2 linked regions of the Homo sapiens genome follow. The protein of the gene in region 1 interacts with the protein of each later gene in a biochemical or structural test. Each region holds a gene or a part of one and is shown in the gene's direction. Other genes may lie near its edges.

Region 1 (4,899 bases):
GATAATAACACAGCCTCATGAGTCTTTTTTTTTTTTTTTTTTTTGAGACAGGGTCTCACTCTGTCACTCAGGCTGGAGTACAGTGGCACAATCACAGCTCACTGCAGCCTCAACTACCCTGGGTTTAGTGATCCTCCCACCTCAGCCTCTCAAGTAGCTGAGACTACAGGTACACACCACCACACCTGGCTAATATTGTATTTTTAGTAGAGACAGGGTTTTGCCATGTTTCCCAGGCTGGTCTTGAACTCCTGAACTCAAGCGATTCGCCTGCCTCAGCCTCCCAAAGTGTTGGGATTACAGGTGTGAACCACTACACCTGGCCTGCCCTTTCTTTTCTCTTAAAAATTCTTAAGAAAGCATGGTCCTGTTTAACAAATAAGCATTTTACAAACATTTATCGATCAATTACTATATGCCAGGCCTGGCACTAGGCACCAAGTCCTCTTCAACAGTGTTAACATTAAGTTTCAATAAACTTGAGTCAGTAGGAATTCAGTAAATAATTTTTAAAGATTGTTTTCTTTTTAAATATGTATTTATAAACAAAAATTTTAGAGAATTAAAAGAAACTATCACGAAGTGCATGATGATAAAAGTCTTATATACTCTCCAAAGAAAATGTTAAGACATACCTTAAGGAGATAGTGAAGAACAGCCGGGCACAGTGGCTCACACCTGTAATCCCAGCACTTGGGCGGCCAAAGCAGGCAGATCATCTGAGGTCAGGAGTTGGAGACAAGCCTGGCCAACATGTTGAAACCCTGTCTCTACCAAAATACAAAAATTAGCCGGGCATGATGGCAGGCGCCTGTAATCCCAGCTACTTGGGAGACTGAGGCACGAGAATTGCTTGAACCCGGGAGGCAGATGTTTCAGCGAGCTGAGATCGTGCCACTGCACTCCAGCCTGGTCGACAGAGCAAGATCCTGTCTCAAAAAGAGGAAAAAAGAAAAGAAAAGAAAAGATAGTGAGAAAATAACTGAACATAAAACATAAAGAAAAGTTGAAATATTAGTACTCACTACCTAGGTTCAACAATTGCTAACTCTTTGCCGTATTTGCTCCATCTATACCTATTTCTTTCTGAATTACTTGTAAGTTGCAGATAAAATAATACTTCACTCCTAAATAATTCAGTACTCATCTAAGAATAAAGGCATTCCTCTATCTAACCACAATTCCATCATTAGGCCTAAGAGGATAAACAGTAAGTCCTTAATATCATCTGATAGCTAGTGCAGATTTAACCTTCCCCATTTGTCCCCCAAATGTCTTCTATACCATTTTTTAAAAAAAGAATCTAATTTTTAAAAATAAGAACATATTTTGCAGTTGGGTCTCATGCTTCTTTCTTCAACATTGGATGTTTTTAAAGATTACGCCAGTTCTCTTGTACCAGGTCCCACTTTCTGAATTCGTTGTTGCCTCATGGTTAATTTGTTCCTCTACCCACTTTATTTCTCATAAGCTCCAAGTTAGGACTAAAAGCATGATTTGATTTTGATTGAACGTTTTTTGCAAGGTGCCACTGGGTGCTCCATATTGCATCTTATCAGGAGGTACAGAATGCCAGGTTGTTCCACTGTGCATGATGCCAAGTTTGATCAGGGCTTGAGGTAGTGATCTTGCTCAGAGGATCTCTTGTTGTACAGGCACTTTTTCACCCTTTGCAATTAGCGAGTACTCTCAGGGGGTATCTCAAAGTGTATCTCATAAACACTTTGGCATGGTGGCAATATCCTATTTCCCAACAAACTCTCACCCGGTGACTTTAGGTAATAATCTTTGCCTAAATTGATTATTTCATTGGAGTTCATATATATTTTTAATACGCTTTGAAGATGGACTCGACATGCAAATTCATCATTATCAGCAGCAATAGTGGCTGGAAATATTTATTGAGTGCATAAGTTCAGGTAATAATAATAATAGTAGGTAATGTTTATTGAGTGCTTGCTGTGGAGCCAAGACAGCCTCGGTGTGAGCCCAGTCTTTCACTTACTAAGCGAATGAACTGGGACGAGTTATTCTTTTTGTGCTTCAGTTTCTTAAGCTATAAAATGGGATTACTAATGGTGCCTATCTCGTGGGATTGTTCTGAAGAGTAAACGATTTATACATTTAAGGTTCCTAAAACAGTGCCTGTTATTATTGTTATTTGCCAAGCATTGTTCTAATACTTTGTAGGTACTAACTCGTCTACTTCTTCTAATGGTGCAATGAAGAAAGTGCTAATAATACCCTTTTTTCACAATGAGGAAACTGAGGTACGGAGAGGTCTAGTACGTTGCACAAGGTCACTTAACTAGTACCTGGTGGAGCCAGGATTTGAACCCAGGCTGTCTGGTTCCTGAGCACTCTCTCTGATGATGGGCACATGCAGTGAGGAGTGATACAAGTGGAGCTGAGTGGAAGTAGCCCTCACACACACTCAGACTTGAAGTTATTGAAAATCCGGGAGGTTGCCACCCAAACACATTTAAGGTTTAATTCATCTGAATAAGAACAGCATTCCACTAAGCCCAGATAAGTACTCTTATTACATTTACATAGCTTAAGGCTCTGTACAAGAAACCTTGAACATAAAATACTTGGAACAGAAAAGAGTAGGAGAACTATGAAGTAATGGGGGGAAAAAATCCCTGAAAGGAACAATACAAGCGGGGAGTTATGAGACCTGGGACCTCAGAGCCTCGGGGTGGAAGATGATATTTTGATATAATCAGGAGGGAGAAATTTCCTCTCATTTTTCACATTTCTGTACTATATAAGATTTTACCATAAAACGCAAGAGTATAAGCCATTGTCAGATTTATAAAAGGCCATGGTGGATTTCCTTAAGAGACGATGGATGACTGTTGTTAGTAGGTAAATTCCCTGGTTGGTTATCTCATACACTCAGATATTCCATAAGTCAGCCTGTGGCTTCTGAAACTGTATTGAGAAAAAGCTGTATAAACTAGGTGTTGGTCCATGCTCCTTCATTAGCATTACAAAAGGGTTCGACTGCTGAGTTGAATCTTATCCACTCCTTCAGTGGCCATTACAGAAAGCTCTCAAGTGTAATTTTCTAAAGAGAACTAAAAATAAATAAGAAAAAAAAAATCCAGCATTAATAATGGTTCTTTTTGCATTTCCAACACAGTCATTGCCAAATTGGTTCTGCCTTTTTATGTTTTTTAATGAAAAGCAGCCTAATTGATCAATTGGTCATGAATAATACTTCTTCGTTTGTTTTTCTCCACACCCCCCAGCCTTCTAGAACCACGGGCTTAATGTGTCGGCCTACAAATGGTTCATGATTTGTGTTTTTTGTCTAGTGCTTTATGGGAAAATATTAGAAACAAACTGCTGAGAACTCAGTAGGAACTCAGTAAATAATAAGTAGATAGTTCTCTTGTTAAATATGATTTTAAAGAAACTCTTTCTAAATAACTAGGAAATATTACAAGGGAAGTACAAAGTGGGGTGGAAAGCCTGGCTGACTTGTAATTTGAAATTTCTCTTCATCATTTTATAGGTCACACAGTTTAACCCTTTATAAAACAAAATGTAAAGTCTGATAGCTGAAAAGGCTCTCCTCCGCTAAATAGATTTGTTTGAAAATATAGATCATTAAATCGGTAAGAATAACAGGAGAATCTCAACCAAACATTGAGACAACTAAGAAAATTGTCTAAATCTAATACCTTATATCAGTACTTTAAGTTGACCATAAATACGCTGATATCCATAGCACATAGGTTCTTACTGGCAGTGGTGGGGTGGGTGGGGGAAGGGGAGTGTCACAGACACATTCAAGATGTCAACGAAAACTATGAAAACTCTCCCCAATGGGGAAAAAAAACCAACGATGCCTAGCACTTATCCTACGCAACTTTGTACAGAATTTCCGTGGGAAATTCTGGTGTCCATCCATCATAAATCACCTGGTGTCCACCCATATATCCTGAATAGGAAAAATTGTCTTTCTCTAGAGTTATTGTACACTGATCCTGATGGAGCTTTAAAAAGAGTTGTCGTACAGGCTCATTGACTTTGGGAGGACAAGGTGGGAGGATTGCTTGAGCGCAGGAGATTGAGACCAGCCTGGGCAACATGGTGAGGCCCCATCTCTACAAGATATTCTTTTAAAAAATTAGCCAGGCCCAGTGGCCCGCACCTGTAGTCCAAGTTACTCCAGAGGCTGAGGCAGGAGGATCCCTTGAGCCCAAGAGATCAAGGCTGCAGTAAGCCGTGTTCACACCGCTACACTCCAGCCTGGGCAACAGAGTGAGATCCTGTCTCAAAAAATAAATAAGTAAATAAAAAGAGTTGCCATTATCTTGTTTGATCTGGCTATGATCTTTGAGGTAGACAGACCACAGATTTTACCTCTCATTCTGCAGAGTGGGAAAAGCAAGGCTTGGAGAGTTTCCGGGACTTGCTCAAGGTAATTTGCTAATGTCTGCCGGGACGTAGCACCAAGCCTGTCACGCTGTAGGCTGGGCCCCTTCCACAACACTGGTCCAAACACAGGATTCTGGAGATGCAGGAGCCCTCGATGGGCTTCTGGAAAGCTGAATTCTGGCTCTACCAGAGCTACCCACGTGATCTTAAACAAGTCACCTAACTTCCCTGAGCTTCAGTTTCTTCCTTAGTCAAGTGAGAGGTTAGACTGTGTGTTCTCTGAAGCCCTTTGATTTTCTGCAGAAAACCACCTAATCCCACTGGGTCTGGGAACAGAGGGAAATGACCTTTTCTGCCATAGATGGCAAGACCCTTCACCCTTCCCTGTAGGGCATAAGAGCTGGCATCCAATTCTTAACGGATTCCCTTGCAATGTCCAAATCCCATTAGAAACTACAAACATCTCAATAGTGCCTTTGTGGGCTGCTTGGGTGTCATGCCGCTGGC
Region 2 (4,899 bases), on another chromosome or scaffold:
ACAGCCTTTCTGAGCCTTAGTTTCCTCACCTATAAAATAGAGAGTTATGGCCGGGTACAGGCCGGCTCACACCTGTAATCCCAACTCTTTGGGAGGCCAAGGCAGGAGAATTGCTTGAGCTCAGGAGTTCAAGACCAGCCTGGGCAACATAGCGAGACCCGATCCTTTTAAAAATTTTACAAAATAAATAAAAAATAGAGAGTTATATCAGACGACCAAAATCCTTTCCGTGAAGCTCTGAAAACTTTTAATTGGTCTTTCAGAATGTGTTTAACTTCTTAAATTTTTAAATTTATTCATATGCTTATATATCAGAGTTTGAAGTATTTATAAATAGTTGATTTCTCATGCTGTTGGTCAAGGTGAAAAAGAAATCTGTGATTTATGTGCCCGTTTACTTTGTAACTATATCTATTACTTGTATATATTAGTAAACATATATTATTTTCTTTATTCTGTCTCTGTTGGAGTAATTTGGTCTAAAACCTGGTTTATTTGAATGGTGAAAAGAAGCGTATCTTAATTAAAATAACTTCTCAAAGAGAAATGTTTGTCAGAAAAATGTAAACCTTTCCTAGCACTTGGAAAATAAAAATTCTTTATTTTGTTCTGTTTTAGGACTGTACGAAAAGAATATATCACTGCAAAGTATGTAGATCATAGGTTTTCAAGGAAGACCTGTTCAACTTCATCAGCTAAACTAAATGAATTGCTTGAGGCCATCAAATCCAGGGATTTACTTGCACTAATTCAAGTCTATGCAGAAGGGGTAGAGCTAATGGAACCACTGCTGGAACCTGGGCAGGTAAGGCCTCACTAAAATCATTGGATAAAAAGTAATGTGGAAAATCAGTTTAAAAGGTGACTTATTTTAACATTATACCATATAATGAGATTCTTATACATTGGGTGGCCATGTCTAAATCAAGAGAATATGAGAGTGAAGAGGTGTGCTCCTTATAATTACTTGGGGGCAACTGATATATATGAAGCCTCCCTTGGCAGAGCATATTATTGACTTACTTATACTTTTCTTTCCCTTTTTAGGAGCTTGGGGAGACAGCCCTTCACCTTGCCGTCCGAACTGCAGATCAGACATCTCTCCATTTGGTTGACTTCCTTGTACAAAACTGGTATCGTTTTTGTTTTCTCTGTTGAATTACCTGAATATGCCTTATAAATTAACACAAACCAGTCCTATCAGTGGCCTAGATCGGGAATTGGCAAGCTTTTTCTGTGTCATGCTAGATATAAAAATTATTTTTGGCTTTGCAGGCATGAAGTCTCTCTGTCAGAGCTATTCACTTCTGCCATGGTAGTGTGAAAGCAGCCACTGACAATGTGTAAACAAGCAAGTGTGGCTGTATTCCAATGAAACTTTATTATTTTGTTTATAAAAACAGACAGTGAACCAGATATGGCCTACAGGCTGTAGTTTGCCATCTCTTGGCCTTTATAAATGTAAAATTATGTCTGTATCCAAAAATCTGCTGCACAGATTGGACACATTTGCTAACCGTTAGGAGAGGTTAAAAGAGAGAAGACTTAACAGCACAGGTCAACCATATTTGTGAGTTTTCATTGTTCCTAAATTTAATATAAGACAGCAGCAGTGTGTGTGGCTGGATCAATAGCTCATTCAAGTTTGGGATATACTGATGGAAGTATAAGAGTGAATATAGGAAGTTTGGACTTGCTGGATTCTTTATTCTCTTTATCTGTTCTGTAAGCAACAGATGATGAGGAGGAACTAGAGCTCATCTAAAGAAGAAGATCAAAATAGTGAGGGGATTTGAACCCATAGAGGAAAAATGGTACATAGACACAAGCCAAATTGTATAAAAGTCCAGGTTTCTTCCTCAGAGACAATATAGCATAGTGGCTCAAAACATTGGCTCCAGAGATAGATTACCTGTGTTCAAATATCCCTGCTTCACCATCCCTATCTTGAAAATCTTGAAAGCAAGCACTTCAGCCTCTCTGCGCTTCAGGGTTTTTTATCTGTAAAAGCGGTTATTATTAGTATTTACCCCATCATATAGTTGTAAAGATTCAATGAACTAATACATGTAAATGTTAAGAAACAGTGTCTGTCCCATAGGACCTGGCACTCTAAATAAATACTGCCTGTTATCACTGTATTGCTTATAAATCTAGGTTAGAAACATCATAATTTTCTCTATTATAATAATTAGGTCTCAAATTTGACTCAGTTGTCAGCACAAAAATAAGTGGCTAATCTATAGTTTTAAGTTATAAAGTAAGTCATTTTTTTCTAATCATCATCTAATTTTTCAGTGGGAACCTGGATAAGCAGACGGCCCTGGGAAACACAGTTCTACACTACTGTAGTATGTACAGTAAACCTGAGTGTTTGAAGCTTTTGCTCAGGAGCAAGCCCACTGTGGATATAGGTAAGAGTGTGTCTAGTGTCTTCATGACTGTAGTAAGCGTGTGTTGCATGGTACATTGTAATTTGATTATTGTTCCTTGCCTTCTTAAGGTGTTTCCTAGATAATTATGCAAATTAATTTTTTTCCTATTTCAGTTAACCAGGCTGGAGAAACTGCCCTAGACATAGCAAAGAGACTAAAAGCTACCCAGTGTGAAGATCTGGTAAGCAAAAATGGACGTGGGAGATTTATTAGACATTGGCTGCCTTAAAAGTGTCATTCTGAGAAGCTAGAATTGAATATTAAAAATGCAGATTCATTTTTTTTTAACACTTGCTAAAGAAAATCAGATGAGCAATGTGCTACATTAGAAAAAGTGGTAAAATGATAAATTTGTCATCCACATGTTTTTGGAATGCAGTTAAAGGAGGTGAAAGGCATTACACAAGTATTATTACCAGATCGACTTGTGCATTGAGGTCATGCTTTTTATTTCCCAGACCATTAGACTTTCTCTGCAGCTTAATAGTAAAGAATTATTTGAGAAGCTGCTCCAAAAATTGGGCAAGTAAAGCTCAGAGAGTAGTGGTCTTCAAAATGTTAACACACTGTTCTCCCAGCCCCTCCCCTTCCTGTGCACATTCACCTTTTTTGACCCTACTAGTTCTTGCTTAGCAAGTCAGGGCCTTCACATTAGTGTGATTCTCTTGAGTTTCTGCTAAGTGCCAGGTTCCAGGCCCACCAGTTGGGCCTTTTTATTCTTAAAAGAATCCTTTGAGACAATTATCCCTGCTCCCATTTTATGAATGAGAAAATGGGGCCACAGATTGGACTGGGACCTTAAAAGCCTACGTCTTAAACTTCAAAGACTCGTTTTGCCTTTCAGCCAGGAATTTGCAAGTTTGAGGCCCATTTAATAAGAAGAAAGCTTTTAATTTTGGAGACAAGTCATCAAAATAAAGAAGGCTCTGCCTGCAATTGTTTGCATTTCTTCTTGAGCCTGTCACATAGCAGTGCAGCTTGTCTAAGCAGAGTGTTGCCTATAGTACACCTACAGATGATTCATTGAAAACTAGGAATAAGGTGGGATTTGCTCAGTGTTTGTATAATATTGGGATGTTTCAGCATTTAAATTAAAATGGTGCACATTTGCTGTTCCTTCCAGCTTTCCCAGGCTAAATCTGGAAAGTTCAATCCACACGTCCACGTAGAATATGAGTGGAATCTTCGACAGGAGGAGATAGATGAGAGCGATGATGATCTGGATGACAAAGTGAGTGTAAATTATGTCCTCGAATTCTCAACAACTACCCCAACTTTTCTAGTCTGTGTAGACAAGATCCATTTTTGGTGAGATTGATTGATTGTGGTTTTATGATCCAATGTATCAGGGCCATTTATGTTGTTCAGTCCTTATTGGGCACCATTTAACAGCTATATTAAGGTTGTCCAGAGAAACAGAGCCAACAGGATAGGGAGAGAGACAGAGAAATTTTTTTTAAGGAATTGGCTCACATGATTGAAGGAGCTGTCAAGTTCAAAATGCACAGGGCAGGCCAGCAGGCTGGAAATCCCAGCAGGAGTTAATGTTGCAGTCTTCAGGCTAAAGACAGTCTGGAGGCAGCATTCCTTACCCTTTGGGGGACCTCAGTCTTTTTAAGGCCTTTCTTTGGCTGATTAGGTGAGGCACACCCACATCATGAAGGGTAGTTCCCTTGACTCGAAATCTACTCATTTAAATGGTAATTGCATCTAAAAAATTCCTTTACAGCAACATCTAGACTAGTATTTGACCAAACACCAGGACACTGTAGCCTGTTGACACATAAAATTAACCATGAAGCTAGGCATGGTGGCTCATGCCTATAATCCCAGCGCTTTGGGAGGCCAAGGCAGAACTATCGCTTGAGACCAGGAATTCGAGAGCAACCTAAGCAAAATGGTGAGACCCTGTCTCTACAAAGTAAATGGATCAATCAATAAAACGTGGTGGTGCTATTTGACAAGCTGAGGCAGGAGGATTGCTTGAGCCCAGGAGTTTGAGGCTGCAGTGAGCTATGATTGTACTACTGCACTCTTGACCTGAATGACAGAGCAAGACCCTATATCTTAAAAAAAAAAAAAAAAAAAATTAACCTTCAAAACAAGTAATTAGTAAGTAAATAACAGTTGTTATTTATTGAACATAATCATGCACTGTATAATAACATTTCAGTCCACAACACACTGCATACTCAATGGGGATCAATATAAGATTAAAACGGAGCTGAAAAATAGCCATCACCTAGTGATGCCATAGATGTCATAATACGGTAGTGCAACACATTCCTCAAATGGTTGTGGGATGCTGGTATAAACCAACCTACTGCACTGAGTTGTATAAAAATGTACAGTAATGTCCTAGGCCTTCACTCACACCCAGAGCAGCTTCCAGTCCTTCCAGCTCCATTTATGGAAAGTGTCCTACATAGATGTACCATTTTTTAATCTTATATAACATGTTTTT

What was found. The genes of interacting proteins can lie anywhere in the genome.
Region 2: the proteins of GRAP2 (region 1) and ASAP1 form a complex in vitro, tested with the Homo sapiens proteins (one study listed by IntAct).

Annotation. Positions count from the first base shown.
Region 1 is NC_000022.11:39,903,452-39,908,350, forward strand, and holds part of GRAP2 (GRB2-related adapter protein 2), read left to right. Parts: intron 1-4,899. UniProt on the Homo sapiens protein: Interacts with SLP-76 to regulate NF-AT activation. Binds to tyrosine-phosphorylated shc.
Region 2 is NC_000008.11:130,114,395-130,119,293, reverse strand, and holds part of ASAP1 (arf-GAP with SH3 domain, ANK repeat and PH domain-containing protein 1), read left to right. Parts: intron 1-618; coding exon 619-805; intron 806-1,047; coding exon 1,048-1,133; intron 1,134-2,298; coding exon 2,299-2,414; intron 2,415-2,548; coding exon 2,549-2,616; intron 2,617-3,279; coding exon of another isoform or gene 3,280-3,462; exon of another isoform or gene 3,463-3,480; intron 3,481-3,558; coding exon 3,559-3,666; intron 3,667-4,899. UniProt on the Homo sapiens protein: Possesses phosphatidylinositol 4,5-bisphosphate-dependent GTPase-activating protein activity for ARF1 (ADP ribosylation factor 1) and ARF5 and a lesser activity towards ARF6.